Homo sapiens: one gene and its partner. The protein of the gene in region 2 interacts with the protein of the main gene of each other region in a biochemical or structural test. Each region holds a gene or a part of one and is shown on either strand. Other genes may lie near its edges. The genes, in order: NAP1L1 and NR2F6.

What was found.
Region 1: the proteins of NR2F6 (region 2) and NAP1L1 form a complex in vitro, tested with the Homo sapiens proteins (one study listed by BioGRID).

What each region holds. Positions count from the first base shown.
Region 1 is NC_000012.12:76,081,649-76,097,830, forward strand, and holds the start of NAP1L1 (nucleosome assembly protein 1-like 1), read right to left. Parts: upstream 3,038-16,182; 5' UTR 2,919-3,037; intron 2,295-2,918; exon of another isoform or gene 2,185-2,294; intron 1-2,184. UniProt on the Homo sapiens protein: Histone chaperone that plays a role in the nuclear import of H2A-H2B and nucleosome assembly.
Region 2 is NC_000019.10:17,230,524-17,246,177, reverse strand, and holds NR2F6 (nuclear receptor subfamily 2 group F member 6), read left to right. Parts: upstream 1-258; 5' UTR 259-957; coding exon 958-1,235; intron 1,236-5,412; coding exon 5,413-5,507; intron 5,508-10,112; coding exon 10,113-10,679; intron 10,680-13,551; coding exon 13,552-13,826; 3' UTR 13,827-14,295; downstream 14,296-15,654. UniProt on the Homo sapiens protein: Transcription factor predominantly involved in transcriptional repression.

The DNA of each region.
Region 1 (16,182 bases), on a different chromosome or scaffold from region 2:
AATATGCAGGAAGTAAAAGGCAGAGTTGGTAACCAAAGGTATAGAAGCCATTTTCTATGGCAAGCCCACTAATGTACTCTAATGTTCTGTAGTCATTGTGCTAAACGACTTACATATGGATAGGTGTAAAGTAACAACTCTCTCCTTCTAACCCCTATTCTGCCCAAAAACTTATTTAGATGAAACTAGTTTGAAATGGAACTTAAAATCATCAAATTATAACAGGTTCCTTTGTGTAAACGCTGTATTACTCTTTGACCCCTTTACCCTTTCCTTCCTTTATAGCTCTCATCACAATTTAACATTCTACATCTAAGCAACCAATTTGCCTCTTTTGCTCATGACATAAGATACATGTCCATACAGGTGCTAGATAGTTACCCAAAGACTAAACTGAGAACACAATTACAGGTTTGATTAAACTTGAAGATCTGAATACACTGATCATTAATATTTTGATATTGATGAGTCATTCTCTCTAATCCTTTGTTTCAAATTTACAACCAAGAAGTGAATAAAATATTGTATTTTGACATCTTCAGACCTTTGAAGTCCAACAGATACTGCTTCTTTAGCCCCTTCTACAAAAAGACCCTTAGTTTTGAATATATTTTGAGAATTTAGAATCAACTCAGTTTTACCAGGAGCCAACAGGAGCAAGCTGAATAAAATGAGATGGCATTTTGGATTACATTAGTTATGGTACAGGTATTCGTTTCAAAAATCTCATTAAAGGCCAAGTGCAGTAATTTACCATATTCAGTATTAGCTTTATAATTCTGCAAATCAATGGGCCTAATATAAAAATAGGCACTTTGTAGCAGATAAAATTTAGAAAGATATTCAAATTGGTATAGTGAAAACTTTTAAATTTCTATTTACTAACATAATGTTGACTTGGAGAATCTATGAAAGTCAGGTTTTATGACAGAAGATGTCCAAGTCCACCTACCAGGGTTTAGTTCCATACATTCTCCAAAGGACAGTATTCTTAGAACTAAACTATAGATTTAGGCCATTTATTTAAACTTGGGCAACTTCAAACAAGCTTGAAACACAAGAGTGCCTTGAAAATAACTGTAAAAGTCATTTACTTCCCTTCGATTTTTAAATGGTACCCTATACATAAAAGGTTTTTCCCTTATTCAATCAAAGGTAATGTATATTACTTCCAAAGTATAGGAGTATTAATTTAAGCTGACCAAAAAAAGAGGACCCAGATACTCGTTTCCAAAGATGTTTTGAATCCACCTATTTTCAAAAGGCCAAATTTCATTTTACAGCTCTTGTGAAACCAGGCAAGCAGTGTAAATTTTAAAATGCAGCAGTGGGATATCTTCAAATGTAGCAGTGAGATTTTTAAAATGTAGTTGTTTCAAAACTGATCAGTGACCGTCTAAAATACGGGCTCCTTGAGGACATCCTGCGCCTGGTTCATCCTTTTTGCACTCTCAAAGTCTAGCCTTCCCAGATGGGACCTCAGTCCCAGCCCCCCTACACTGCCATCCCCCAGATCTTTAGGGCAGTAGGGTTCATTGACAAGGTTGCAGGCTACAAACTTGGCAAAGTTTATACTAACACCTCATTCCATCCCACCTCCCATCTTAAAAAGGAAACCGTTAAGTATCTTATTCTAGTGACTTCAATAAAGGAACTAATTTATAAGACAGCCAAGAACAATTAAAGTCATAAAGGGCCAAACATTTTATTTTCATCTAAGAACCGTTTGCAGGGGTGGTCCGATCTTTTGGCTTCCCTGGGCCACACTAGAACTGTCTTGGGCCACACGTAAAATACATTAACTAGCTGATGAGCTTTTTTTTCCAAAAAAAAAAAAAAAAAAAAAACCTCATGAATTTGTGTTGGGCCACATTTAAAGCCGTCCTGGGCCGCGGGTTGGACAAGCTTGGTTTAGGGGTTTAGATCGATCAGGATCAATACTCCCCAAATAAAAAACCCTGATCAAGACACCCATCTAACAGTACCTGGGAAACACAATAACAACCTTTTGCTAATAACAGTTAATATAAGCGCTATATACGCGTTAACTTTTTAAAATACTAGCAGTGGAGGCCCTTCCTTATCATCAGCTAACATCCACAATCTCTGGTACCAATAAAAAGATTAAGACCAAAGAGAAGCAGGGAAGAGTTTGAAACCCAGGGACAGGGCTTACTCGCTTACCCTTCCTTTTCACATTCCACCGTCTCTACAACTTTCAAAGTAAGCACAGACCGAGGGCAAGGGTCTCCAACCAGGCCCAGCCAGTGGCCATGAAGCCCATTACCACGTGTGGAGCGAAGCCGCCGGGGGTTTCCCCTCCCCGCGCGGCCGCCCCCAATGGGCGGAGAGCCCGGGAGCGTCGCAGCCTCCCCCGCCCCCTCCCCGCCTCGGGGACTCGTCCCTCCACAGCCCCTCCCTCCCGTCGGAATTCGCAGCCTCCGCCGTTCTTTTCATCTCCCAGCGGCCTCCCTCCTGGTATTATTTTTGAGGGAAAAGCAGGGGGGTGTCCAAGAGGCGGCCGGCTCTGCACTCGGCCCGGCCCGTACGCCGGGGGCCTCCCGGTCCTCGCGGCGCAGCCGAGTCTCAGGGCACCCGGGCGTCACCGCGGCCTCGCTCCGGTCCACGCGGAAAAGACGGTGGAGCTCAGAGAACCTTAGGCCTCCAGGCCGCGCCAACCCCTACGTCGCCTCAGCCGTCCCCGATAAAAGCGCTGGTCGGCCCCGGGGCCCCTCTCAGGCTCCGGGGTCCGGACTCCGCGGTCCTGTCCGACCTCACAGGACGACCCCGGAGGCCACGGGCGGCCAGCGGCCCCGACTCCCGGCTCCCAGTCCCTCCATCCCTCCGGCCCTCCCATCTGCGCAGGCCGCCCAGCCAACACCACGTTCCCCCTTCCCTTCCAGGCCCCCATCCGTTACCGGCGACTAGTATGGGGAGCCAGGCGGCCGGAGCTGCGCAGGCAGTGACTCAGGGCGGCAGCGGCAGCAGCAGCGGGAGGAGCAGGAGGCGGCGCCGCGAGCAGATGGCGCTAAAAAAGACCCAAGAGCCCGCCGCTCGCGCTCATATACAATTAGCGTCAGCACGTAGGGCCCTTTCGCCGCCCTCCTCCCGGCCTTGTAGTCTCCCAGCAACGCGAGCGAGAGGCGGGTCCAGGCCGGGTTGCCTAGCAACTGAACCGTCCTCCTTCCCCGGCGACCTCCATACCCCCACCGAGGACTCCTGCAGCCCCGAGGCCCAGGCGCCGCGCTTGGGCTCCTCTGGTTCCCGCCGGTGTCTAACCTCCTCTGTTAAGCACCCCACCATATCTTTTCTCCCTGCTGAGCCGGAAAGGAAATTTCAACCCCATCAGTTGTGGGGAAGGCCTGGCCCGCGTGCCCGGCGCCCGGCCCGCCCCGCCCCCTTCGGCGTTGTGCTGGGAACGCTCAGGGCTGGCGCCAGTCGCCTGGTCCCTCGCTCGCCGCAGCCTAGACGGCGGACGCTCCCTGTCAAGGCCTAATTCCTGCAACTCGCCGGCCCCCGGTAACCGTTTTCCTTCCCCGCCTAAGAAAAACAGTTTTTTCCTCTAGACCACTTCGGCGGCCTCTTCTGACAGTTTTGCTTCTCCTATGCCAGCGGGTCTCCGCGCCTTTAGGGGGTGCTCGTCATCCTTTGCCCCCCAACCCCCCGCCACATCCTCGTAACTGATGTACAGTCCGTCAGTTCGGCTTCAGTTCTTTTGACGGATGAAAATGGCATATTTGTGCATTCTCTGGATGCGTTATAATGAGGACACTCAGTACGTCCGTTGTTTCATCTTTCTGAAAAAGTAAATCACATTAAATCCTCAGGCTTGTAAAACCTCATAGCTAATTTTCAAGTGATGATGAATTGACTAATACTAACTCAAAAAGTTGTTCTCAGAGTATGGTCTGAGGGTCCCCAGACCCTTTCATGGGGAAGGTCAAAACTATTTCCATATTAATGTCAAGACTGCCTTTTGCATTCTCATTCTCTCACAAGTGTACAGTGGGGTTTTCCGGAGGCTACGTGACATGTGATAAGGAAACAGACTGAAAATAGAAGCAGATAGGAGAATCCAGTCATCTGCGGTTAAACCAGACGTTAAAGAGATTTGCAAAAACTCGATTTGGGGGCAAGGGGGAGTAGTTATTTTTCATATAAAAATTATTTTTTGTTAATATTTGATTGCTTTATTGTTTTTAAATGAAATACTCTTAAAATTTCTCACTTTTAATTTCTGATATAAATATCAGTATCAGTAATGCACATAAAAGTTCTTTGGGGTCCTCAACTTTTAAAGGAGTGTAAAGGAATCCTAAGACCACAAAGTTTGAGAACCTCTTCTCTAAATCTTGCATTTATTGAAACTTCAAACTGCCTAGAATCCCCTATTGTAATCCACACATTTAGCAACTTTATCTTCCGTTTTAGGGGATACAATGTTTTCCTTGGCCCTCCAGAACCTCATTGAAATTATTTGCCTTCCCACTCTATACTGCAGACGACTCTGTTTATTCATTCATTTTAGTTTTTCATATACAATTCCTTTGTTGTTCTCATAGCCTATTCCTGTACACCCTTCTCAACAATGATGTAATGATACAAGGAGCATAATAGCATCAATAATGGATCTTCAGGAAGAACCCACTATACATAAACAAGGTAGACCAGTGCTCAGTTTGAACATAAATTTGACACATTAATTTCAATAAGAACTTCAGGAATGTTGCATTTTAATCAAAGCTGTGCACGATGCAAGGTAATTAGCATATTAAAATGAACTAAATAACTTTCACTTTCTTTCCATAAATCTTTATGGTAGCAGAATTTCTGAGACAAAATTGAGAAGTTAGCTTTTGTGGTGGTTTTTATCCCACACCAGAGAGCCTCATCAATTTTCGGCACTTCGCTCATGAAGGCTCTGGATTTTTTAGGTTTCACCACCCCCCCACCAACCCCTATAACTTAGGTGTTATCATTACCAGTACATATGCTCTTTCCCCCTTTTCTCCAGCTTCCTCTTCTTTTTTCAGTGTATCCTAGCCAATCTAAGAAACTAAACAATAAAATATTTCTAATAATGCATGCCTTTGTAATATAGTCTTTTGAACCAGTTTGTAAATCTAAGTCTTTGCCATTAAAGTTCAGGGAAGGGCAGACATTTATGCATTCATTCAACAAATATTTATGTCAGGCACAACTTCGGACTCTGGAAATACAGCATTTAGTAAGAAAGACACGGTTCTTGATTTTATTGAAGTTATGGTCTAGTGAGGTGAGGCAAATGATTAGAGATAAAATAATTTTACTAATAAAATATTAGTAATAAAACAATTTCACTTATCAATAATAAATAATTGATAAGTGAATGCTATAAAGAAAATAAAATGAGAAAAGGGGTAGGAGGTGACTGACCTGAAGATACCTTTGAGCTTTTTTTTTTTTTTTTTTTCGACGGAGTCTCACTCTGTTGCCCAGGCTGGAGTGCAGTGGCGCGATCTCGGCTCACTGCAACTTCTGCCTCCCGGTTTCAAGCAATTGTCCTGCCTCAGCCTCCCGATTAGCTGTGACTACAGGCAGGCGCAACCACGCCCAGCTAGTTTTTTTGTGTTTTTAGTAGAGATGGGGTTTCACCATGCTGGTCAGTCTGGTCTCGAGCTCCTGACCTCAAATGATCCGCCTGCCTCAGCCTCCCAAAGTGCCGGGGTTACAGGTGTGAGCCTCTGCATCCGGCCACCTTTGAGCTTTTTACATTGGCCCCTCTTATACCCCCAAATCACACAATGTAGTTAACTCATCTAACTTAATTGCAATAAATGGTGACCCTGGTCACTGATCTTGGGCCATGCGAAATTTTCTGTTGCAGTTCCTTTTCTCATGCTCTCTTTGGAAGCATATATACTAAAATTAAAGGTCCTTTTTTCTCTATCTCCCATGATTTTCATTTGGTAGACTTTTATAGCATTGTAGCCTGGAGGCTTAGAGGGGTGGCTTTGGAGTCAAACAGCCTATTTTGTCCCCATTTTTCTACCACTTAATAGCTGTGTAACTTTGGATAAGTCAGTTAGCCATCCCAGGTTTCATTTTCCACATCTGTAAAATGGGGAAAATAAGCATGCATTTTTCATAGGGCTGTTGTGAAACTTAAAAAAATTTTTTTTTTTTTAAGTCAAGAGGGATCTTGGTATATTACCCAGGCTGGTCTTGAACTCCTGGACTCAAGAGATCCTCCCACTTCAGCCTCCCAAAGTGTTGGGATTACAGGCATGAGCCACCTTGCCCAGCTGTGAAACTTTTGGAGACAGAGTCTCACTCTGTCACCCAGGCTGAGGTGCAGTGGCGCAATCTCGGCTTACTGCAACCTCTGCCTCCCATGTTCAAACAATTCTTGTGCCTCAGCCTCCCAAGTAGCTGAGACTGCAGGTGCGCGCCACCACATCCCACTAATTTTTTTGTATTTTAGTAGAGATGGGGTTGCACAATGCCCAGGCTGGTCTCAAACTCTTGAGCTCAGACAATCCACCCGCCTCGGCCTCCCAAAGTGCTAGGATTACAGGTGTAAGCCACTGTGCCTGGCTCAGCTGTGAAACTTTAAATAACACATTTAAGTTGCTTAACATAATGCCTGACATATATAGTGACCGCTCAATAAAAGGTAACCATTTTTAACCTCTTACTGAAGTTTTGTTTTTATTTTTGTTTTATTTAAAGGTTTAAGGAACTACCCCGAAGTCTTCTGATAGTGTCTGACACTTTTTGTGACATATTTTATTAAAAGCTATCTAGTCACAGCTTTTAAAAGACATTTTCCTGAGCTGAAATAATCCACACCAATTACCACAAAAATATTATAGTCAACATTTCTCAATATTGGATAAGAACTATGAAGATCAACAAGAAATTTGATGACAAAGATGGTATTTTACCTGTGCTTGTGTCTGTGTTTCAGCCCCTATGTAGTAGAAAAAAAAGCATAGGCTTTAACATCAGACAGGTATAGGCTCCTTCAACACTGTGACCTTGCAAAAGTACTTATCCACTCTGATCTTCAAGCTTCCCTATCTGAAAAATGCATTAATAATTATAATAAAATCTGTGTCTTTATTAGCATGAAATAGAGAAATGTATGTAAGTTCCCAGAGCAATGACTTGCCCTTTAAGTACTCAGTATTTATTTTCTTCCCTCTGAATTAATCTGTAGGTAAAACATCCAAGGGAACTAATAATAATTATCATCTAAAAACTGCACAAGATACATTTAAATAACAGTTACGTTAGTTTCAGATCTGGATTTTTTTTCTACTTTTCCCCAAATTAATTTATAGCTGCAATGTAATCAAATTCCAAGTGGAAAATTATGGATAAGATGCCTTACATTTTTCTCTCTACATTCAAAAAAAAGGATTAATAGTTTTTTTGTTTAAAAAAAAAATCTTTTTTTTTTTTGAGACGTAGTTTTGCTCTTGCTGACCAGGCTGGAGTGCAATGGTGCGATCTCGGCTCACTGCAACCTCTACCTCTGGGGTTCAAGCGATTCTCCTGCCTCAGCCTCCCAAGTAGTAGCTGGGATTACAGGCATGCACCACCACGCCTGGCTAATTTTGTATTTTTAGTAGAGACGGGGTTTCTCCACGTTGGTCAGGCTAGTCTCAAACTCCCGACCTCAGGTGATCCGCCCTCCTTGGCCTCCCAAAGTGCTGGGATTATAGGAGTGAGCCATTGTGCCTGGCTTTTTTTTTTTTTTTTTTTTTGAGACAAGGTCTCACTCTGTCACCCAGGCTGGAGTGCAGTGGTACAACTACAGCTTGACCTCCCTGGCTCAAGTAATCCTCCCACTTCAGCCTCCCATGTAGCTGGGACTACAGATGTACACCTCCGTGCCTGGCTAATTTTTTTATTTTGGGGATCTCACTATGTTGCCCAGGCTGGTCTCCAACTCCTGTGCTCAAGAGGTCCTCCCACCTCAGCCTCCCAAAATGCTGGGATTACAGGCATGAGCCACTATGCTTGCCTTGTTTAAGAATATTTTTATTTTCCTGTCATTACTTAACTGAATTTTTTATTGAAATGATTATAGATTCACATGAAGTTTTGAGCAATAACACAGAGAGATCCATGAAAACTTTCCCCAGTTTACCATAATGGTAACAATCCATGATCTTATTCAGATTTTCCCAGTCTCACTTGGATCCATTTGTGTGTTTATGGATTTAGTTCTATACAATATTACCATTTGTGGCTTTGTGTATCTGTCACCAAGAAGATACAGATCAGCTATATCGCCCAAGGATCCCTTATGTTGCCCTTTCATTCATTTATTTTTAAATTTTAATTCTTTTTTTTCCTGGACAGGATTATTGCAGTGTATGTTGACCTTTTATTATGGTCAGGGTTTTTTGTTTTTTTGTTTTTTTATATGCCAAATAATGTTCTACATTCCTAGATTTTATTTTATTTTGTTTCTCACACATAGACCACTTAGGTAGAAAATATGCCATTGTTAGGCTGGGCGCGGTGGCTCACGCCTGTAATCCCAGCACTTTGGGAGGCCGAGGCACGTGGATCACCTGTGGTTGGGAATTCAAGACCAGCCTGACCAACATGGAGAAACCCTGTCTCTACTAAAAATACAAAATTAGCCGGGCATGGTGGTACACGCCTGTAATCCCAGCTACTCGGGAAGCTGAGGCAGGAGAATTGCTTGAACCTGGGAGGCGGAGGTTGCGGTGAGCCAAGATCGTGCCATTGCACTCCAGCCTGGGCAACAACAGCGAAACTCCATCACAAAAAAAAAAGAAAATATGCCATTGTTTTGTGCGGGCCTTCAATATTTCTTACCTAAACCATTTGCAATAGCCTCACAGTTGGTCTCCCTAATACCAATCTCTTATTCCACTTCAATCTACCAAAGTTATTGCTCTAAAATATAAGTCTAATCAAGTCAGAGAAAGTTCTCTGACTCATCAAGACAAAGCTGGCTGCAAACCCTTCTCTGTTTGCGGACAACACTTGTATGTGGGTATTTATGTAGATATGTATTTATTAATTAATTCATTCATTCTTTCATTCATGAGCCCATGTTTCCTTCTCCCATAACACACACCACACTAGCCTGTTAACTGCTGCAGGGCAGTGTTATGTTTTTTACATACCCTTGGTTTAAACAGTGACTGGCCGTGAACAGCTTTCAGTAAATATTTATTTGCTTGAAAGAATGAAATGAAAGGAAGGATGCAAGGAAGAAAGGAAGGGAAGGATGGAGAAAGGAAATAAAGAGGTTATTGAAAACGAACAGGAAGTCACAATACTTCATGTAAATAATCCTTTTTTGAAGTCTATTACATCAATTCTACATTTATCATAGAGTCTATATTGGACAAATTTGACAACCTAATCTGCACAAGAAGATTTTGAATATGGTTTGGACATTGTTTGGGTTTTCGTTTGAATATTATTTGGGTATTTGTTTGGATATTATTTTCCCTCATCCATGAAACAACTTGCTGGTAAAAAGAAAGTAAAGAAATGTTGATATATTTTAGATCATAATGAATAAAGAAAACAAATTACACAGTATAATTTGGAGACAATCAGAGTGCCCATTACTGGGACAATTGAGAGTGAAATGTTGTATATGCACAACATGGAGTATTATGTAGCAGAACATTGAATGTAATATGGCAATATTGAATCTTTAAAATGTAGTGGTTGCAAAATAAAGCCACAATGAGGTACCCTTACACACCTATTAGAATTGCTCAAATTTTAAAAAATACATTAGTACAAAATGCTGACAAAGACATAAAAGAACAGGAACTCTTAACTCTGCTGGTGGGAATGCAAAATGGTCCAATCACTTCAGAAGACTGTTTGGCAGTTTCTTCAGTGGCTCACGCCTGTAATCCTAGCACTGTGGGAGGCTGAGGTGGGAGTTTTGCTTGAGCTCAGAAGTTTCAGACCAGCCTGGGCAACACAGCAACATCTTGTCTCTACAAAAAATTTAAAAATTAGCCAGGCATGGTGGTGCATGCCTGTAGTCCCAGCTACTCAGGAGACTGAGGTGGGATGTTCACTTGAGCCGGGGGGAGTGGAGGGGTGTATGTGGGGGGGTCGAGGCTGCAGTGAGCAGTCGTGTTGCTGTTCTACAGCCTGGGTGACAGAGCGTGACTCTGTCTCAAAAAAATTTAAAAATAGGCCGGCAGGCACAGTGGCTCACGCCTGTAATCCCAGCACTTTGGGAGGTTGAGGCAGGTGGATCACCTGAGGTCAGGAGTTCCAGACCAGCTTAGCCAACATGGCAAAACCCCATCTCTACTAAAAAGAGAAAATTAGCCTGGCGTGGTGACCGGCACCTGTAATCCCAGCTACTCAGGAGGCTGAGAGGCAAGAGAACCACTTGAACCTGGGAGGTGGAAGTTGCACTGAGCTGAGATCATGCCATTGCACTCCAGCCTGGGTGACAGAGTGAGACTCCATCTCAAAAAAAACAAAAACAAAAACAAAAACAAAAAATGAACAACAAAAAAATTTTAATAATAAATGAAATAAAGTTTAATATACATTTACTATATGACACAGTAATCCTTCTACTGAGTAGTTACCCAAGTGAATTGAAAACTTATGTACACACACAAACACACACACGTATACAACTTTATTTCTAACTGGCAAAACCAGGAAACAGTCAAGATCTCTCTCTGCAGGTGAGTGGATAAACAAACAGTGGCACATTTATACGATGGAAATAAAAAGAAAGGAGCTACTGATTCTGAGGTAGGAGGCAGGACTTGGCTCCAGAGGTGGGGTTTGGACATCAGGATCAAATTGAGGACTAGCTAAAACAGGTCTAGGGTGGAAGCACCTCTCCATAAGACACACCCACCAGTGTGCTTGTCAGTTTACCATTGCCATGGCAACACCTGAAAGTTACCACCCCTTTCCATGGCAATGACCTGGAAGTTACTACGCTTATTCTAGAAACTTCTGCATAACCACCTCTTAATTTACATATAATTAAAAGTGGGTATAAATAGGACTGCAGAAGTGCCTCTGAGCTGCTACTCTGGGCACACTGCCTGTAGGGTAACTCTGCTCTGGCAGGAGGAGTACCTTTGCTGCTGCTGTACCCTGCCACTTCAATAAAAGTTGTTATTTAACACTGCCACTCACCCTTGAATTCTTTCCTGGGCAAAGCCAAGATCGCTCCAGGACTAAGCCTCAATTCTGGGGCTCACCTGTCCTGCATCAATTCACTCAACAACATGGATGAAACTCAAATGCATTTTTGCTAAGTGAAAGAAGTCAGATTCAAAACTCTATATATTACAATTCCATTTCTACAGCATATGTAAAAGGCAAAACTATGAAAATAGAAAGCATCAGTGATTGCCAGGGGTTGGAGGAGAGGTGCAGAGTTGACTCCAAAGGGGTTGTAGAGGGGATTTTTTAAAGATAATGGAATTGTTCTATATTTTATAGGTAGTGGATATATGACTATATACATTGAGCAAAATCCATTTGCTATATTCAATTTTTCAGAAAATCAACCAGATGTTGGGGGATCCTAGGATGAGATGCAGACTGTGACAAATTAATCTAACTGAATTATAAACATATAATCTCACTGAGGGGGTGAGTAAAAAAGGAGCTGACTTTCGAAAACAGTATTTTGACTGGACACTATAAGGCTAAAGGCAAAAAGAGCTACACATAAACATTGCACTATAGTTGATAAATTTATTTATCAAAGAGATAATAAGCATTAGCAATTTGGAAACTAATTTCCCTGTATACTAGGAAATCTGTATTCGTTTGCTAGGGCTACCATAACAAACTGGGTGGCTTAAGCAATACGATGTATTTTCTCATAGTCCTGGAGGATGGAAATCCCAAATCAAGTTGTTAGCAGAGTTGGTCCCTTCTGAGGGCTGTGGGTGAAGGATCTGTTCCAGATCTCTCTCACTGGCTTGTAAATAGCTGTCCTCTCCCTGTGCCTCCCTCTATGTGTGTGTCTGTTTGAATTTCCCTTTTGTATAAGGACATCAGTCAGATTAGAACCCACCCTAATGACCTCATTTTAACTTGATTATCTCTGTAAAGATGCTATCTCCAAGTAAGGTCACATTATGAGGTACCGGGGTTTAGGACTTCAACATATGAATTTTAGGATAACACAATTCAACTCCTAACACTAGGGTTTGGCAAATAACTAAATAATTGTAGATAATGGGAGCCAGGTCTCTTGCTACTGGGAAAAAGTCACAAATAAGCAAGGAGAGAAGGCTAGAATGAACCATGGGGTGCTGGATTAGGGTCAGAGATAGAGGTATGAATGAATTCATGCTTATAGATAGATGATAGATGGATGATAAATAGATGGACAATAAAGATGTATATATACATAGGCTAATATATTTCCTAGCTTTGCCCACTGAGGAAGCCTAGAAGCAATGTGATATAGTTTGGATATTTGTCCCTGCTCAAATCTCATGTTGAAATATAATTCCCAATGTTGGAGGTGGGGCCTGGTGGGAGATGTTTGGGTCATGGGACAGAATCCTTCATGGCTTGAGGCTGTCCTCACCATAGTGAGTGAGGAATGAGTTCTCATGAGATCTGGTAAAATGTGGTACCTCCCCCACTCCACTCTGCCAATGTTATGCTTGCTGTACAGGCTGCAGAACCATGTGGCAACTAAACCTCTTTTCTTTATAAATTACCCAGCCCCAAGTGTTTCTTTTTCTTTCTTTTTTCTTTTTTTTTTTTTTTTTTGAGATGGAGTCTTGCTCTGTCACCAGGCTGTAGTGCAGTGGCATGATCTCAGCTCACTGGAACCTCTGCCTCCGGGATTCAAGCAATTCTCCTGCCTCAGCCTCCCAAGTAGCTAGGACTACAGGCACACACCACCATGCCTGGCTAATTTTTGTATTTTTGTATTTTTAGTAGAGTCAGGGTTTCACCATGTTGGCCAGCATGATCTCGATCTCTTGACCTCATGATCCACCTGCCTCGGCCTCCCAAAGTGCTGGGATTACAGGCATGAGCCACGGCACCTGGCCAGGTGTTTCTTTATAGCAATACAAGAACAGCCTAACACATAGTGACACCACAGTAACAACAAGCATGACCAGTTCACAAATCTTAGTTTCTAAATACCATTTCCAATTAAAGGAGGGAAAACGCAAGACGAGTCTGGAACATCTTATAGTGCTAAAAAAAAAAAAAAAAAAAAAAAAGAAAATTATAAAAGTAGGAGAGAGGTCAAAAGGACACCAGAGGCAATTGGAAAGAGTTCCCCAGTGGCCAAAGCTGGAACAATTTCAGCAAAAAAACAAAAACAAAAACAAAAAAACCCAAAAAAACCAACAAAACAGTGATAGTATTGGATTATAATTCAGAGAGTAAAATAAATATCCATGAGTCCATAATGATATAAGTATTATTGAATAAATACTTAAGTGATAAAGGGAGAAATTTATCTTATAGAAGAATTCTAGGCTTGGCGCAGTGATTCACGTCTGTAATCCCAGCAACCTGAGATGCCAAGGCAGGCGGATCACCTGAGGTCAGGAGTTCGAAACCAGCCTGGCCAACATGATGAAACCCTGTCTCTACTAAAAATACAAAAATTAGCTGGGCACTGTGGCAGGTGCCTGTAATCCTAGCTGCTCAGGAGGCTGAGGCATGGAGGATCGCTTGAACCCGGGAGGTGGAGGTTGCAGTGAGCCGAGATCACGCCATTGCACTCCAGCCTGGGTGACAGAGCAAGACTCCATCTCAAAAAAAAAAAAAAAAGAATTCTAAAGAATATATGTAGACACTCCTCTCTAGGAGATAGAGATTAATCCTGTCCTTTTGGTTGTGGTATGGAATTACAATGACTCACTTTCAAAGAAAATAGTATGGAAATGGAAAAATATTAACTTTATAGTGAAGAAACCTGGCAAACACTACCTTAACTAAATGATCAAGGTTAACATTATGAGTTATAAGCCATGTTGGCATCAAGTACATCATGATATAATGGGGTGAGATGAACATCTTTACTAATTAAATACAAACACATATTATACACATTATAATTGGAATAGAAGATAATGGGAGTGAAGTACAGAAATAAAAGGGAATCAATTTATTGATCAAGGGGGGACTTATCGGAATGGGAAGAATTATAGAATAAGTTAAAAAAAAGTGGAAGGTAGCTATGCACCTTTCGCCAATAACAGAAGTTCAATACTTCATTTCTCAATATTCCATCTCTGCAGGATCAAATTGTGATTCTCTTATATTTCAAAAGATTAGTTCTTGAAGGTAGAAGGAGCAAAAAGCAGTAAAATTAGATTTGTCATTAATCGTAATGCTAAGTAAATTTGAGCAATTAGAGCAAACTAGAAATAAAATCTGGAAATAAAGAAAAATCAAGTCAATGGCAACAGTAATAACCACTGACACCACTTCTCTGTGCCAGACACTATTCTAAAGAGTTTTGCAAATACTAACTGATAGAATCCTCACAACAACCCTATGATATACTGTTATTATCTCTGTGTCATAGATGAGGTAGTTGAGACTCGGAGAGATCCAGCACCTGTCTCCACACCATATTAGCCACTAGTGGCAGAGTTAGGATCAGAATACAGGCAGCTTAGCATCAAATCAGACCCTGAGCCTGTGACTCCATCCTTTCCAGTTAAAGGCATAAGAGGGAGTCCCAGAATTCAAGGAAATCACTGCAATATAAACAGACAAGTAAACAAACTGTTACCACTCAATGTAAGTGTAACAATGGAGGAGAGGACAGCGAGCCAACTTCACAGAAGTGACAGTGAAAACAAATCTTGACAGGGAAGTAAGAACTTGCTTTGTGACAGGATAGGATTTCTGGCAAGAGAATAGCTGTATGAAAGAAGTTTTGGACTGATTGTTCAAGGCTGTGTGGAAAATACATTGCAGAATACACTACTCAAATGATAACTTCCACCTTTGGCTGGGCGTGTATTTCACATACAGAAAAACTCTAGCAAAGCCATCATTAAATGTATTGATATCAAATGTTTGTCAGTTTCATTTGGGCCTATTCATCCTCACTACCTTCAGGAGTTAAAACTGAACCTCTATTAGAAATATCACTTCTAGGCCACACGGGGTGGCTCACGCCTGTAATCCCAGCAGCTTGGGAGGCTCAGGCAGGTGGATCACATGAGGTCAGGAGTTTGAGACCAGCCTGGCCAACATGGTGAAACCCTACCTCTACCAAAAATACAAAAATTAGCCGGGTGTGGTGGTGCACATCTGTGGTCCCAGCTACTCGGGAGGCTGAGGCAGCAGAGTCACTTGAACCCGGGAGGCAGAGGTTGCAGTCAGTGGAGATCGTGCCACTACACTCCAGCCTGGGAGACAGAGCAAGACTCTGTCTTAAAAAAAAACAAAAAACAAACAAACAAAAAAACACACACACAAAAAGGAAAAAAAAAAAAAAAAGAAATACCACTTTTTAGTAATGAAAAAAATACAATACATAGTTTCCCACAATCAGGGTGGTATTATGTATACAGGTCATGAGCCAGATTAAACCTATTCTAAAATCATATGAAAAAATTATTTTGGGCTGGGAGCAGTGGTTCATGCCTGTAATCCCAGCACTTTGGGAGACTGAGGTGGGCAGATCGCTTGAGTCTAGGAGTTCAAGACCTGCCTGGGCAATATTGTGAAACCTCATCTGTACTAAAAATACAAAAACTAGTTGGGCATGGTGGTGCATGCCTGTGGTCCTAGCTACTCGGGAGGCTGAGGTGGGAGGATCACCTGAGCCTAGGAGGTCGAGGCCGTAGTGAGCTGTGAGTGAGCCATTGCACTCCAGCCTGGGCAACAGAGTGAGACCCTGTCAAAAAAAAAAAAAAATTGAAATAAAATAAATAAAAAATATTTTAGAAACATTTTTGAAAAATATGTTACAAAAATCCAGGAGAGAGTAACTGAAACAGTAGGAGTTGAGGCAGCAAATGCTACCATTAACTATGTGTTGAGTATTTTTCTAAATTGCCTGAATGCTTTATCTCATTTAACTCTCATAACAACCCTGTGAAGTAACTACTACAGTAGTCCCCCCTTGTCCGCGGAGGAAATCTTCCAAGACCTTCAGTGAATGCCTAAAACCAATGAATAGTACCGAACCCTATGTAT
Region 2 (15,654 bases):
AGGCCCGAGCTGGGCGAGGGCGAGGGCGGGGGTGCGGGGGGAGGGGCAGAGGGAGGCGGGGGAGGGTCAGGCCCCGCGGCCCAGCGCTCGGCCCCCGTCCCTCCCGCCGGCCCGTTCGCCCGGCGCCGCGCGCGGCCACCCATGCCCTTATAAGGGCGGCCGTCGCCGGGGCAACGAGCGCCCGCCCCCAGCCCGCGGCGCGCGCCCCTGCCCCCGCCCCCGCCCCCCGCCCGCCCCGCGAATGGAACGCTGTGTGTCAAACCGGCCGCAGCGCGAGGCCGGCGCGCGGGGTCGGTGGCGGTGGCGGCGGCGAGAGCGAGGCTTGGGCCCAGGCGCAGGCCCAGGCCAGGCAGGAGCGGCCGCAGCGGGGGCGGCAGCTCCAGAGGCGCCGGCCCAGCGGCCCTGCAGGCCCGGAGCGGCAGCCGCGGGCGCCGGGGGACCCAGGGGGCGCGGCGATCAGCCCCGGCGCGCACCCGCCGCCCCTCCCCCCCCGCCACGGGCGGCCGCGCAACTTGCGGCCAAACTTTCCCCCCGGCCTCCCGCGCTCGGATGGCGGCCCGCTGAGTTGGCCGCAGCCCCCGGGCGAGCGGCGGCCAGGCCAGAGGACGCCCCCTGCGCGGCTCGGGCCGGGCCATGGCCCGCGCGCCCCCGCCGGGGCCCCAGGGCGGCGGGACGCGAGTCCTCTGGGCCCCCGGCCCGCGCCTCTAGCGTGCCCCTCCCGGCCCCGGGCCCGGCCCCGCGCACGCGTGGGAAAGTTGGCCTGGAACCGGCCCGACCAGTTCCGCCCGGGCGCGAGGACCGGCCGCAGGAAGTTGCTGCAAAACTTTTTTGGGGGGTGCAGCCCGTGCCCCCCGCGCGCCGGGGCCGAATGCGCGCCGCGTAGGGTCCCCCGGGCCGAGAGGGGTGCCCGGAGGGAAGAGCGCGGTGGGGGCGCCCCGGCCCCGCTGCCCTGGGGCTATGGCCATGGTGACCGGCGGCTGGGGCGGCCCCGGCGGCGACACGAACGGCGTGGACAAGGCGGGCGGCTACCCGCGCGCGGCCGAGGACGACTCGGCCTCGCCCCCCGGTGCCGCCAGCGACGCCGAGCCGGGCGACGAGGAGCGGCCGGGGCTGCAGGTGGACTGCGTGGTGTGCGGGGACAAGTCGAGCGGCAAGCATTACGGTGTCTTCACCTGCGAGGGCTGCAAGAGCTTTTTCAAGCGAAGCATCCGCCGCAACCTCAGCTACACCTGCCGGTGAGCCCCCCATCCGCGCGCCGCCGCCGTGCACCCCGCCCCGACCTGGGGCAGGCCTCTGACCTGCTCGGTCACCTTGGGCCTGGCGCTGACCTTCCCTGGGCCTCCACTGCCCCCTCTGAGATAGGGGCACAGCACCCTCCTCCCGCATTCCATGGCTGGGATTGTGTATACAGTCGGCGCTACATCGTTGCAGGTTCCCCCCCCATCAGGTGGTCCCTGGAGGCTTTTGCCCCAGTTACTTGCTTCTCCTTCCCTCCGCTTTTTCTCTGGGGAGGGGTCATCTCCGCGCTGGGGTGGGGGTAGGGGTGCTGTCAGGGGTGGTAACCCAACCCCAGGGCACCCGTTCTCGGGGATCCCGGCGCGCGGGATGCCCTCGAGGGAATCGAACGTGGAACTTGGACCGTGGAGCTCGCAGCGTCCAGGGGCCATTGTCTGCGGCCGCGCGGATCGATACGGCGCGCCCTTGGGGTCAAATATCACTTCCAAAGTCGCTGTGGCTACGGAGGCGGCAGACGGAGGGAGGCTGGGGTGGCACGGGGCGGCCTTCTTCGCATGAGGGGCCCAGCGGTGGGGGTGGGGGTGGGAGCTGGGCTTGCCCATCTCAGGGAACCCCTCTGGGCTCACTCTGGGCCTTGGGTCACCGGAAATCGCCACTGGAAGGCCGGCAGGGCCACCGGAATTGACTGAAACGTCCCTCTCCCCCAGGGGTGGGTGCAGACCTGGGGCTCCTGGAAAAATCCCTCAAACTTTGGGTGTCTCTGAGACGGGCAGGGAGTGAAACGTTTCCGAGCAGGAGCCTTGGGCTGTCCCAGGTCGGAGACCTCTCTGGCAGGGCGTGGCCTTGCTAGCTGTTCTGGCGGAAGGTCCCCAGGGAAAGCGATCGGGGTTGTCCAGCCCGGGAGTTCTTTTCTCACCGTTCCCGGGCGAGCATCCGATCTGTCCGTTTATAAGCCCCTACTCTGCACCCCAGGAACATGCAGGGTCTCTGTGGAGCCCGTCTAGACGGTCTCAGTTCCCAGCTGCCCAAAACAGAGGCCCAAAGGCCCAGAGAGAGGTCCTGGTGCCTGCTTTGCGTTGGACATGGAGGGACGCTGCCCGAGTTGGGGGCACTGTGGGGGAACTGTGGGGCTAGGGTGGGGACCGCTGAGTTCGGATCGGAGTGGCCCCAGGGAGAACGGCTGATGGAAGGCTTGTTGGCTGAGGCCACCAAATAGGGCCCCAGGTACCCGAGGGTGGAGTTTGGCCCCAGGTCCCGGGTCAGGGCTGGCCTGGTGTGGCCATGTGTGGCAGAGCTGCCTTGCTCCCTCCTCCAGCACAAAGTGGGCCACTAGACTTTGGCCTCATTCTTGCTGCTGGAAAACCGCCTGCTCTCTGGTCATATCTTTAGGGAGGGTAAGGGAGGGGGGCTCAGGCAGTTTTGGGGTCCCAGGAGCTTCCTGAGGGTGGTGTCAGGGAGCAGCAATTTTGGGTGGGGGGGGCCTTGCTTGGAGCTGACAGGTTTGTGCTGTGTCAGTTGTGTGACCTGGTGAAATCACCATTCCATTCTGAGCTTCAAATGGATTGAGCAGGGTCTCGCTGGGGCCCAGCCTGGGTAGTTTGATGCCAGCCCCTCCAGAGAGACCCCAGCTCCAAGTCTAGCTCCTGAGAAGCCCCCAGTCTGGAGGAGACACAGTGAGACAGATGCCCCAAGTCTGTGGGATCTGGGGTCCCAGGGAGAGAGCAGAGGCTCTGCCTGGAGGTCAGAGAGGGCTGCCTGGAGGAGGCTAGGGGACATGAGCCTTGAAGCATGGAGTTGGCAGGTGGAAGAAAGGCCACAGGGACATGCCAGAATGTGGTCCAGACAAAACACTTAGTGGCAGACTGGGGGAGCTGTGCTGTAAGAGGGGGACTGTGCAGCCATGGGAGAAGTCAGAGCTAGGTGGGCCTGAAATGCTGGCTGAGGGTAATGGGGAGCCATAGAGGGTGTGTGAGCAGGAGAGGGCTCTGATCAAATTGGACTGGAGGCCAGAAGCCCAGGGAGGAAGCTGAGTTGGGCCATGGGGTTGGGCAAAAAAGCTTGCACTCTTTAGGTGGGATAACAGGAAGAACTTAACTGTTTCCCTCCTTGGAGGGATGGATCTGTCCCAATTCCACAGCTGGGGAAGTTGAGACTGAAGGTTCAGGGCCTCCCCTGAGGTCAGGGGCCCCTGAGCTGGGCCTCTGCCTGCCTGCAGGGCCGCCCCAGGCCAGGCCGTTTCCACCCGGCTGCCCTGGACCCTCCCACCACCCAGCCGCTGGGCTTTGTTCTGGTTCTGCCTGAGCTCCCTCTGCCCTAGTGGGGCCTCTTCCCAGGGGCTCAGTGGCTGGTGCTGCAGGACCCAGGCAGTGGTGGAGGGGGGGTACGGGGGAGTGGGCGCAGATCCTCAGCTTTCCTAAGTTGGGTTCTCCGGCTGGGCTCTGGGTCTTGGCACTGTCCCCCGTGAACCCCTCTGACCCAGTCCATCCCATATGATAGGGCAATATCTGACCTCCCATTTTCAGATGAGGAAACCGAGGCTCAGTGGGGCAGTCGCCACCTGAGGGGCAGGGCTGGGTATCTGCAGCTGAGATTCATCTGTTTTGTTTTGTTTTGTTTTGTTTTTGAGACGGAGTTTCACTCTTGTTGCCCAGGCTGGAGTGCGATGGCGTGATCTCAACTCACTGCAACCTCTGCCTCCCGGGTTCAAGCGGTTCTCCTGCCTCAGCCTCCCAAATAGCTGGGATTACAGGCATGCGCCACCATGCCCGGCTAATTTTGTATTTTTAGTAGAGACAGGTTTTCTCTATGTTGTTCAGGCTGGTCTCAAACTCCCAACCTCAGGTGATCCGCCCGCCTCGGCCTCCCAAAGTGCTGGGATTACAGGCATGAGCCACTGCACCCAGCCTTTTTTTTTTTCTTTTTTTTTGAGACAGAGTCTCACTCTGTCACCCTGGCTGGAATGCAGTGGGTCAATCTTGGCTCACTGCAACCTCCACCTCCCCAGTTCAAGCGATTCTCCTTCCTCAGCCTGCCAAGTAGCTGGGATTACAGGCATGCGCCACCACGCCCAGCTCATTTTTGTATTTTTAGTAGAGACGGGGTTTCACCATGTTGGCCAGGCTGGTCTTGAACTGACCTCAGGTGATCCACCCTCCCCCGCCTCCCAAAGTGCTGGGATTACAGGCGTGAGCCACTGCAGAGATGCATCTGTTTAATTCCCTTAAGTGGTGGTTCTACTCTGTGACTGTCTCTGTGTGTCCCCTGGGTGTCCAGCTGGAACCCCAGGGGTAGTTGCTCCAGGCCCAGGCCTTGGAGAGCCCCCAGCTCCTGGTGGCAAGAGACCAGGGGAGTCCAAGGGCAGGGGCCAAGGGGAGAAGGTTCTGGGGACATTTGAAGAATAAGGCCTGGACCTTCCTGCTTGGGGGCTGACCCAGGATGGGGAGCTCACCACCTCTCAGGGTGGGGCCACCTGTCTCATCCCTGCAAGAGGCAACGGCATTCACTGAGGGCTGACCAGGAAAATCTCCAGCTTGCATAGGGGTTGGGTGGTCCTCTCGGAAGAGCGTAGGTGTGGGGCCTTCAGGGCTGAGGACCAGAGTGACTTTGTTTACTTCCTCATTCCTTGGGGTGGGCATTGTGCGGGTGATAATGCTGGGGCCCCACAATGCTATGACCCCACAGACCACTAGCCCCTGGCCTGACCCCTAGTTAATTCACAAAGTCCAGCTCTCTGACCATGTCCTCTTTGCCTTCACATCTTTTTGGGGACAATGACCCTGCTCAGCCTGACAGTGACCAAATAAAATGAAACTCTTTAGGCCTCCATATTTGTGTATTTCAACCCTTTTGCTCTGGCTGTACCCTCTCTCTGGGATCACCCCGCCATTCACCTGGAGAACTCCTATTCATCCTTCAAAACCCATGCCAATGTGCCCTCCCTGGGGTGTTCATCTGCTTTTCCACAGATTCCTCTTCATCCATCACCACTCATCCGGGTTATCCTGTCTGGTTTGCAGACCTGCAAGCTGAGCTCCTGTACCCCTTTGGGGCTACCTCTCCAGTCTAGAGGGCCCCTACTAGTATTTCTGAGGGGCAGCCTCCAAAGGCGGCTCATAGGCTGGTTCGGGGAGGAGGATATGGGGGTCTCAGGGAGCCCTGGCTTCTGTGTGCCCCCAGGTCCAACCGTGACTGCCAGATCGACCAGCACCACCGGAACCAGTGCCAGTACTGCCGTCTCAAGAAGTGCTTCCGGGTGGGCATGAGGAAGGAGGGTGAGTACGTGCTGGGGACACACTGGGGACGATCACAGCCGCTGGAGCCGGGGTGAACAAACAGCTTCTTCCTCCCCTTTTTCCCCTCCCTTTCACCCCTCCCTTTCACAGGGGTCTGGGTGCCTCACAGGGTGGGGGCCGGCGCCTGCTAACCTCATTACCACTGATCCCTTGATCCCGTGGGCTGCAGTCTGGCCCTAGGCTGGAGGAATCCAATTAGGATCCGTGGCCCCCTGGTTGCTGCCGTGGAGCTGAAGAGGCCAGGGACGCCCCACAAGGGACTTTCCCCAGCCCCATTCTCTTGCAGGAGCTGCCTTCCCCAATTACCCCCGACTCCAGCCTCAGAGGCCAGTTCCCTGGCCCTGACACCTTGGTGACCTCTTGTCTGCTAGCGCGGCCACCGCGTTCTGAACAAGGATTTTTTTTTTTATTTGATTTGTTTCTCCTCCACCCTTCACCCATGCTTTTTGTTTGCCCAAGGCAGGAACTCTGCCCGATTAAGGCAAAGGGCAGCTTACCCTTTCTTCTGACCCCGGGCGCTGGGAGCAAGAGTGAGGCCCAGCTGTCTCTGCTCAGGGGACCCAGGTGGACGGGCGTATTCTGGGCTGCTGGGCCTAGAACTCTGCCAAACCCCCTTAGAATTCAAGTAGAACCCAGAGATTTCTGCATGGATTTCTGGGGTTCAGGAATAGAATCTAGCCTATTGGACGAGATCTCCTGTGCTGGGTTTCAGGTTCCTCTGGGGACTGTGTCGTGGGCCAGGCTGGCAGTTCTTTCTAATGTCTAACCTGAGCCTCCCCTGCTTTGAAGTTTTTTTTTCCTTATTTTCTTTATTTATTTTTATTTTTATTTGAGATGGAGTCTCGCTCCATCTTCCAGGCTGGAGTGCAGTGGTGTGATCTCAGCTCACTGCAGCCTCCGCCTCCCGGGTTCAAGTGATTGTCCTGCCTCAGCCTCCCGAGTAGCTGGGACTACAGATACGGGCCAACACGCCCAGCTAATTTTTTTTTTTTTTCTGAGACTGAGTCTTGCTCTGTCGCCCAGGCTGGAGTGCAGTGGCATGATCTCGGCTCACTGCAGGCTCCGCCCCCTGGGTTCACGCCATTCTCCTGCCTCAGCCTCCGGAGTAGCTGGGACTACAGGCGCCTGCCATCTCGCCCGGATATTTTTGTATTTTTAGTAGAGACGGGGTTTCACCATGTTAGCCAGGATGGTCTCGATCTCCTGACCTCGTGATCTGCCTGCCTCAGCCTCCCAAAGTGCTGGGATTACAGGCGTAAGCCACCGCGCCCGGCACGCCCACCTAATTTTTGTATTTTGTTTTGTTTTGTTTTTGAGACAGAGTCTCGCTCTGTTGCCAGGCTGGAGTGCTGTGGTGCCATCTCGGCTCACTGCAACCTCTGACTCCCTGGTTCAAGCGATTCTCCTGCCTCAGCCTCCTGAGTAGCTGGGATTACAGGCACATGCCACCACGCCCAGCTAATTTTTGTATTTTTAATAGAGATGGAGTTTCACTATGTTGGCCAGGATGGTCTCGATCTCCTGATCTCGTGATCTGCCCGCCTCGGCCTCCCAAAGTGTTGGGATTACAGGCGTGAGTCACCGCGCCTGGCCTAATTTTTGTATTTTTAATAGAGATGGTGTTTCACCGTGTTGGCCAGGCTGGAGTCTCCAACTCCTGACCCCAGGTGATCCGCTCGCCTCAGCCTCCCAAAGTGCTCGGATTATAGGCATGAGCCACCCCACCCGGCAGCTTTTTTTATTTTCTAGAGACAGAGTCCCACTATGTTGCCCAGGCTGGTCTCGAACTCCTAGCTTGAAGCGACCCTCCCACCTTGGCCTCCCAAACTACTGGGATTACAGGAATGAGCCACCATACTTGGCGTAAAGCTGTTGTTTTTTGGTCTAGGCCTTGGTGGGAGAAGCTGAGAGAGGCAGCTGAGGGGCTTTCTTTTAAAACTGATCACTCCCTGTGGCCCTTTTAAGTTTGGGGGTAACTTTCTTGTCCCTGCCCCCATAACATGGATTTTGCCTCTACTTGTCTATTTTACCTAAAATCCTCATATATCTCAAGTCATGGCCTCAGAGCAAACAGCCTCGCCAGAAGTCTCCAAAAGCCTCGGGTGGAAATATTTATGATGACAGCTCATGCTTTAAGCACACCTGCCTCGGGTCCTTTGCACGGGCTCTTCCCTCTGCCTGGAGTGCACTTTTTCCAGGTCCATACATGGCTCCCTCCCTAACCTTGCCTTCAAGGTTTGCTCAAACATCACCTCCTCAGGGAAGCCCTCCTGATCCCCCTGTATTTGACGCCACCTGTCTTGTTCTGTAATTTGCTTACACCCAGAATGTCCATTCCCTGTGGGCAGGTATTTTTGTCTGTCTTGTTCCCCAGCGCCTAGACCAGGGCTTGGTACACAGTAGGTGTTCAATAAATGGTCCTTGGCTTGAATTACCATGTAATTACCTTTCCTGTGTGGCAGGCATTATTTTAAGGTATAGATTCTCATTTAATTCAGTGATTGGTGACATCGTTTTTGAGACGGGGTCTCACTCTGTCTGGAGTGCAGTGGTGCGATCATAGCTCACTGCAGCCTTAAACTCCTGGGTTGAAGTGATTCTCCCACCTCAGCCTCCTGAGTAGCTGAGATTACAGGTGTTCGCTACCATGCTGGGCTAATTTCTTAATTTTTTGTAGAGACGGGGTCTCGCTATGTTGCCCAGGCTGGTCTCAAACTCCTGGGCTCAAGCGATCTTCCTGCCTCAGCCTCCCAAAGTGCTAGGCTTGCAAATGGGAGCCACTGTCTGCATTTTACAGATGAGGAAACTGAGGCACACAGCAGATTGGTGAGGCCATTTGTCAGAGAGCAACAGAGTTGTGATTGGGATTTGAACCTCCACAGTCTGGGCTGAAGAGCTGGGGAGGGGTTTGAGGAAGAGTGAACAGAAAGTGCAAAGGCCGGCCAGGCGTGGGGGCTCACGCCTGTAATCCCAGCACTTTGGGAGGCCGAGGTGGGCAGATCACGAGGTCAGGAGATTGAGACCATCCTGGCCAACATGGTGAAACCCCGTCTCTACTAAAAATACAAAAATTAGCCAGGCGTGGTGGCAGGTGCCTCTAATCCCAGCTACTCGGGAGGCTGAGGCAGGAGAATCACTCGAACCCCGGAGTCGGAGGCTGCAGTGAGCTGAGATTGTGCCACTGCACTCCAGCCTGGTGACAGAGCAGAACTCTATCTCAAAAAGAGAGAGAGAGAGAGGGAGAGAGAGAGAGAGGAAGAAAGGAAAGGAAAGAAGGGAGGGAGGGAGGGAAAAAAGAAAAAGAAAAAGTTCAAAGGCCCTGGGGTGGGAATGTGGCCATGTGAGGGAGTGGTGGTTGCTCACAACCCAGTGAACAAAGCGGGAGGAAGCTTCCTGGAGGACCGGGGAACCACTTTTGGGCCCCATCCACCTATCCCCATTTGACAGTTGACTCAGACTCAGGGACCCCTTGGAGCGGGCTTCAACCCATGCCCTGGCTTCTCCGCTTAGCTCTGTTCGCCCCTGGCTTCTGCTCGCGTTCCCCTCCGGTGTTTGCTCTACACAGAGTTGACCTGGAGTTCACGGAGGTGATGAGATGGGGCATGCCAGCTCATTAAAGCTCATTAATTAGTCTGCTGGCAACCAGCCCAGTCAGCCCTGCCATCCCGCCCACCCCGGCACAAGCCAGGCAGGCACATGGCCAACTCTCTTCCTCTTCATGCCTCAGTTTCCCTTTTCTCACCCACCTGGTCACTGCAGACGTGCCCAAGCCAGCAGCAGGGCCTCCCCGCTTCATAAGCAAGGCTACTGATGGCGGCTAATGTTTACTGAGGACCTATGGCAGCCCCCCTGGGACCCCTCCTTACTGTAGGTCCCCCCCAACCCTTCCCTGCACTGTAGCCTCTGCAGGGACCCAGACCGGCCCTCAGGGGTCACCATCTGGTGGGGAGGGGGATGGAAGGTAGAGAAATGATCCCTGTTCCATAGGAGAGAGCCAGTGCTGGGTGGGTATTGATCTGTTGCTTTGGGGACCAAGCTGGCCAGGGTCCCCAAGTCCTCCATGGCCCATCCTCAGCTCTGGGAACCCCATGACTATCTGTTAGGAGGCTCCAAAAGGTTTATTAGATGCTCCTCCTTGTCCCCAGGAGCTGGGGGTGGGGGGTGGTGGCTGGACCTAGACAGGGACTCCTGGACTCTTACTTTCTAACCAGCCTGGCGCCCATGGGGTGGGGTTGGGCATTCTGGGAAAGGCTGGGCCTGGAGGCTTTGGAGGGGAGGGCCTGAGTGACCCCTTGATGACTTTTGTCTCCCTTTCCCGTTATTCTCCCTACCTGCCCCCCCCCACCTGCCCCCCACCCCATGTCTCTATGGGCACCTACTTGGCCCCTCATCCCCCCTCTTCCGGCCCTCTCCTCTCTACCCCTCGCTTCCCTTCCTGTCTCTCCAATCTCCTCTCCTCCCGGCCTTCTGTGCCCCGCCCTCCCCTCCCCCATCTCCTGTCCCTCCCCCGTTTCCTGCTGCCCGCCCCCCCCCCCCCCGCCTCCCCTCCCGCCCCCATGTCCCTCCTGTCCCCGCCTCCCGCAGCGGTGCAGCGCGGCCGCATCCCGCACTCGCTGCCTGGTGCCGTGGCCGCCTCCTCGGGCAGCCCCCCGGGCTCGGCGCTGGCGGCAGTGGCGAGCGGCGGAGACCTCTTCCCGGGGCAGCCGGTGTCCGAACTGATCGCGCAGCTGCTGCGCGCTGAGCCCTACCCTGCGGCGGCCGGACGCTTCGGCGCAGGGGGCGGCGCGGCGGGCGCGGTGCTGGGCATCGACAACGTGTGCGAGCTGGCGGCGCGGCTGCTCTTCAGCACCGTGGAGTGGGCGCGCCACGCGCCCTTCTTCCCCGAGCTGCCGGTGGCCGACCAGGTGGCGCTGCTGCGCCTGAGCTGGAGCGAGCTCTTCGTGCTGAACGCGGCGCAGGCGGCGCTGCCCCTGCACACGGCGCCGCTACTGGCCGCCGCCGGCCTCCACGCCGCGCCTATGGCCGCCGAGCGCGCCGTGGCTTTCATGGACCAGGTGCGCGCCTTCCAGGAGCAGGTGGACAAGCTGGGCCGCCTGCAGGTCGACTCGGCCGAGTATGGCTGCCTCAAGGCCATCGCGCTCTTCACGCCCGGTGAGCCACGCTCCGAAGAGGGCCGCGGGATGGGGGGACCCAAGGGAGGTTAGGAGGAGGGCGGCCTGGACCCAGACTCCGGCCCCCATAGCGCCCCGCTCGCTCCCTAGGCCTGGGGCCCTGCACGCGCCGTGAGTGAACGCTCTTGGGTGGCTGTAGAGGGGTGATGTAAGCAGTGTGACACTGTGACACCCCCACTCCGTGATCCCAGGACTCTCGGAGAACTCTGAACCCCGGACCCCAGACCCAAGGCTGGGCCAGGACCAGGGCCCAGACCCCAGAACCCTCTTCCTGTTCCCAGGCTCCCTGAGACCCCTACTCCCTCACCAAAGGGCTCTTCAGGCTTAGTGAGCACTGATAGCACAAGGTTGGGGGGACGTGGGAGGGAAGGTCCTGACCCCCTGGTTCTGGCCCCCTCAGGCCCCCACTGGGCTCCCAGGGCAACCTCCAGGTAGCCAGGGTTGTAGGGATCTGGGTAGGGGCGTGGCTCGGAGGCCCCTCCCGTTGAGGGGCGGGGCAACCCCAGAACTTTCTTAACCATCAGCTATCTAGCAGTGGTAGCCCATCGTATTCCAGCGACTGGCGGTACAGCCAAATTTTTTTTTTCCACTTTATTTTTTTATTTGTATTTCCATTTTTTGAGACTGGGTCTCACCCTGTCACCCAGGCTGGAGTGCAGTTGTCCGAACACGGTTCACTGCAGCCTTGATCTCCAGGGCTCAAGCAATCCTCCCTCACACTTCAGCCTCTTGAGTAGCTGGGACCACAGGCGTGCACCACCATTCCCGGCTAATTTTTTTTTAAACGTTTTCTGTAGAGACGTGGTCTCACCGTGTTGCCTAGGCTGGTCTTGAGCTTCTGGGCGCAACCAGTCCTGCCTCAGCCACCCAAAGTGCTAGGATTACAGGCATAAGCCACCATGCCTTTAGACAAAGATCTCTCCAGCCTGTCTCCTGGGAGTTCTTTAACCTACTGGAAGTCTCTAGATCCCATCAGAGGTATCTTTGGGGCTAGGAACCAGATCCAGGCTACTCTGGGAGGTGGCTTTCATTTGATAAATATGGTTTTGGGCCTGCAAGGTGGCTCAGGCCTGTAATCACCGCACTTTAGGAAGCAGAGTTGGGAGAACCACTTGAGCCCAGGAGTTCGAGGCTCCAGTGAGCTCTGATTTTCCCACTGCACTTGAGCCTGCGCAACAGAGTGAGACCGCGTCTCAAAAATCAATAAATATGGCTTTATTTATTGTTTTCCCAGAAGATTTTTTTTTTTTTTTTTTGAGACGGAGTCTTACTCCGTCGCCCAGGCTGGAGTGCAGTAGCACGATCTCGGCTCACTGCAACCTCCGCCTCCCTGGTTCAAGCTATTCTCCTGCCTCAGCCTCCTGAGTAGCTGGGATTACAGGCACGCGTCACCACGCCTGGCTAATTTTTGTGTTTTTAGTAGAGACGGGGTTTCATCATGTTGGTCAGGCTGATCTCGAACTCCTGACCTCATGATCTGCCCGCCTCAGCCTCCCAAAGTGCTGGGATTACAGGCGTGAGCCACCGCGCCTGGCCTTCCCAGATTTCTTCTTGGCTTCCTATCTTGGGTCTCTCTCTAGAGGCTGCCACATTCTCTCACACCGTAGGCCCTTCTGGGCTCTGTCTTCCTCATCAAATTCCCTTCCCAGCCCCACCTTCCCTGCGAGCTTCCTTAGAACCCATCTCCTTGGCCTGGCTGGTGGCCCTGTAATCCCAGCACTTTGGGAGGCCGAGGTGGGGAGATTGCTTGAGGTCAGGAGTTCAAGACCAGCCTGGCCAACACAGCAAAACCCGTCTCTACTAAAAATACAAAAATTAGCTAGGCGTGGTGGAGTGTGCCTGTAATGCCAGCTACTTGTGAGGCTGCGGCAGGAGAATCACTTGAACCCGGAGGCAGAGGTTGCAGTGAGATCGTGCCACTACACTTCAGCCTGGGCGACAGTGTGAGACTCTATCTTAAAGAAAAAAAAATTAGAACCTGTCTCCCTGCCAAAGGCATGAGTTGGGTGCCAGCCACCCTTGAAACATCACTGCCTGCACCCCTATGTCACTGGTTAGATGAGAACACCTCACTATCTCTGGAGGATCGACACAGTCTTAGATAGTCCCATTTGCATCCCAGGGTCGTTTTTTGTTTTGTTTTGTTTTGTTTTGTTTTGTTTTGTTTGAGACAGGGTCTTATTACTCTGTCGCCCAGGCTGTGCTATGATCATGGATCACTGTAGCCTCAAACTCCTAGGCTCAAGAGATCCTCCCACCTCAGCCTCTTGAGGAGCTGGGACTACAAGCGTGTGCCATCACACTGGACTAATTTTTATTTTTTATTTATTTTGAGACAGGGTCTCCCTCTGTTGCCCAGGCTGGAGTGCAGTGGCACGATCTCGGCTCACTGCAACCTCCGCCTCCCAGGCTCAAGCGATCCTCCCATTAGCCTTCCGAGTAGCTGGAACTGCAGGCACGCACTACCATGCCTGGCTAATTATTCTTATTTTTAGTAGAGACGGAATATCATCATGTTGGCCAGGCTGGTCTTGAACTCCTGACCTCAAGTGATCCACCTGCCTCAGCCTCCCAAAGTGCTGGGATTACAGGCGTGAGCTACTGTGCCCAGCCCCAGCTGATTTGTTTTTGCAGAGAAGGGATCATACTATGTTGCCCTGGCTGGTCTCAAATCCTGGCCTTAAATGATGCTTCTGCCTTGGCCTCCCAAAGTGCTGGGACTGTGGCCGTGAGCCATCATGCCCGGCCCCCTGTTCTTACCCACAGTGGCGAGTGGTGTCCCCTAGTCACCCCTGTGGGCTCTGTGTTCTCTAGCTGCCTCCCACCTGTCTGACTTGCCTTTGTCCCCCTAGACGCCTGTGGCCTCTCAGACCCGGCCCACGTTGAGAGCCTGCAGGAGAAGGCGCAGGTGGCCCTCACCGAGTATGTGCGGGCGCAGTACCCGTCCCAGCCCCAGCGCTTCGGGCGCCTGCTGCTGCGGCTCCCCGCCCTGCGCGCGGTCCCTGCCTCCCTCATCTCCCAGCTGTTCTTCATGCGCCTGGTGGGGAAGACGCCCATTGAGACACTGATCAGAGACATGCTGCTGTCGGGGAGTACCTTCAACTGGCCCTACGGCTCGGGCCAGTGACCATGACGGGGCCACGTGTGCTGTGGCCAGGCCTGCAGACAGACCTCAAGGGACAGGGAATGCTGAGGCCTCGAGGGGCCTCCCGGGGCCCAGGACTCTGGCTTCTCTCCTCAGACTTCTATTTTTTAAAGACTGTGAAATGTTTGTCTTTTCTGTTTTTTAAATGATCATGAAACCAAAAAGAGACTGATCATCCAGGCCTCAGCCTCATCCTCCCCAGGACCCCTGTCCAGGATGGAGGGTCCAATCCTAGGACAGCCTTGTTCCTCAGCACCCCTAGCATGAACTTGTGGGATGGTGGGGTTGGCTTCCCTGGCATGATGGACAAAGGCCTGGCGTCGGCCAGAGGGGCTGCTCCAGTGGGCAGGGGTAGCTAGCGTGTGCCAGGCAGATCCTCTGGACACGTAACCTATGTCAGACACTACATGATGACTCAAGGCCAATAATAAAGACATTTCCTACCTGCACAGCCTCCCTGGTCTTTATTTTTATTTTTTATTTTTGAGACGGAGTCCTACTTCGTCACCCAGGCTGGAGTGCAGTGGCGTGATCTTGGCTCACTGTAACCTCTGCCTCACAGGTTCAAGCGATTCTCCTGCCTCAGCCTCCCCAGTAGCTGGAACTACAGGCACCCACCACGATGCCCAGCTAATTTTATTTTTGGTAGAGATGGGGTTTCACCATGTTGACCAGGTTGGTCTCGAACTCCTGACCTCAGGTGATGCACCTGAGGCCTCCAAAAGTGGATTACAAGCGTGAGCCACTGTGCCTAGCCTCACTTACTTTCTTTTGGTCAACCTTAATCTTTTTTTTTTTTTTTTTTTTTTTTTTTGAGATGGAGTTTCGCTGTTTCACCTGGGCTGGAGTGCAGTGGTGCAATCTTGGCTCAGTGCAACCTCTGCCTCCCGAGTTGGAGCAATTCTCCTGCCTCAGCCTCCTGAGTAGTTGGGATTACAGGTGCGCACCACCACGTTCAGCTGATTTTTGTACCTTAACTAGAGGGGTTTTGCCATGTTGGCCAGGCTGGTCTCGAACTCCTGACAGGTGATCCACCTGCCTTGGCCTCCCAAAGTGGTGTGATTATAGGCATGAGCTGCCGGGCCCTTAATCTTGTTTGGGCTCCAATGTCCTTGGGAGAAACCTCTGGGGCCAGTCCTGTCACATGATGTAAGGCGAGCCAATCAGAGACCACCATTCCCTGGGCCACAGCAACTGGTTTATGGAGGCCCTGGGATGCCAAACTAGCCAGTGAGATTGCACGGTGGGATTTGGAACTGGGAGAATCTAATTAAAGCAGAGCCAAGGATGGAAGATCAATTTCCCAAGATGCCTTTGGAGCCCCAGATCAAGCCATACCTGAAACCCTTGGGTGTTTTAAGTTCTGTGAACTCAGTCTCCCCCCTTTTGTGCCTGAGTCAATCTGACTTCAGTTTTTTTTCTCACATGGAACTAAAAATCTGTTTCAGAGATTGACGTTTGGGAGTCAGGCACCTACAAGGCCAAGACTTTGAAATGTGGGCTTCACTGGGTTGATACGGAATCATGTGGGGTACCAGGGACTCTCCCGTCCCAGCCTCGGGAGTGTGTGGCACAGCTCTGTGGTGGGAAAGGCACCTGTGGAATTCAGCACCAGAGCTGTAGGGCAGAGAGAAAGGGCCCGAATGGTGGTGGGGGTGGCACCTCTCACTGATGTCCTTCTGTAGCCAGGCGTGGTGGCAGGAGCCTGTAATCCCAGCTACTCGGGAGACTCAGGCACGAGAATCACTTGAACCTGGAAGGCGGAGGTTGCAGTGAGCTGAGATCGCACCACTACACTCCACTCTGGGCA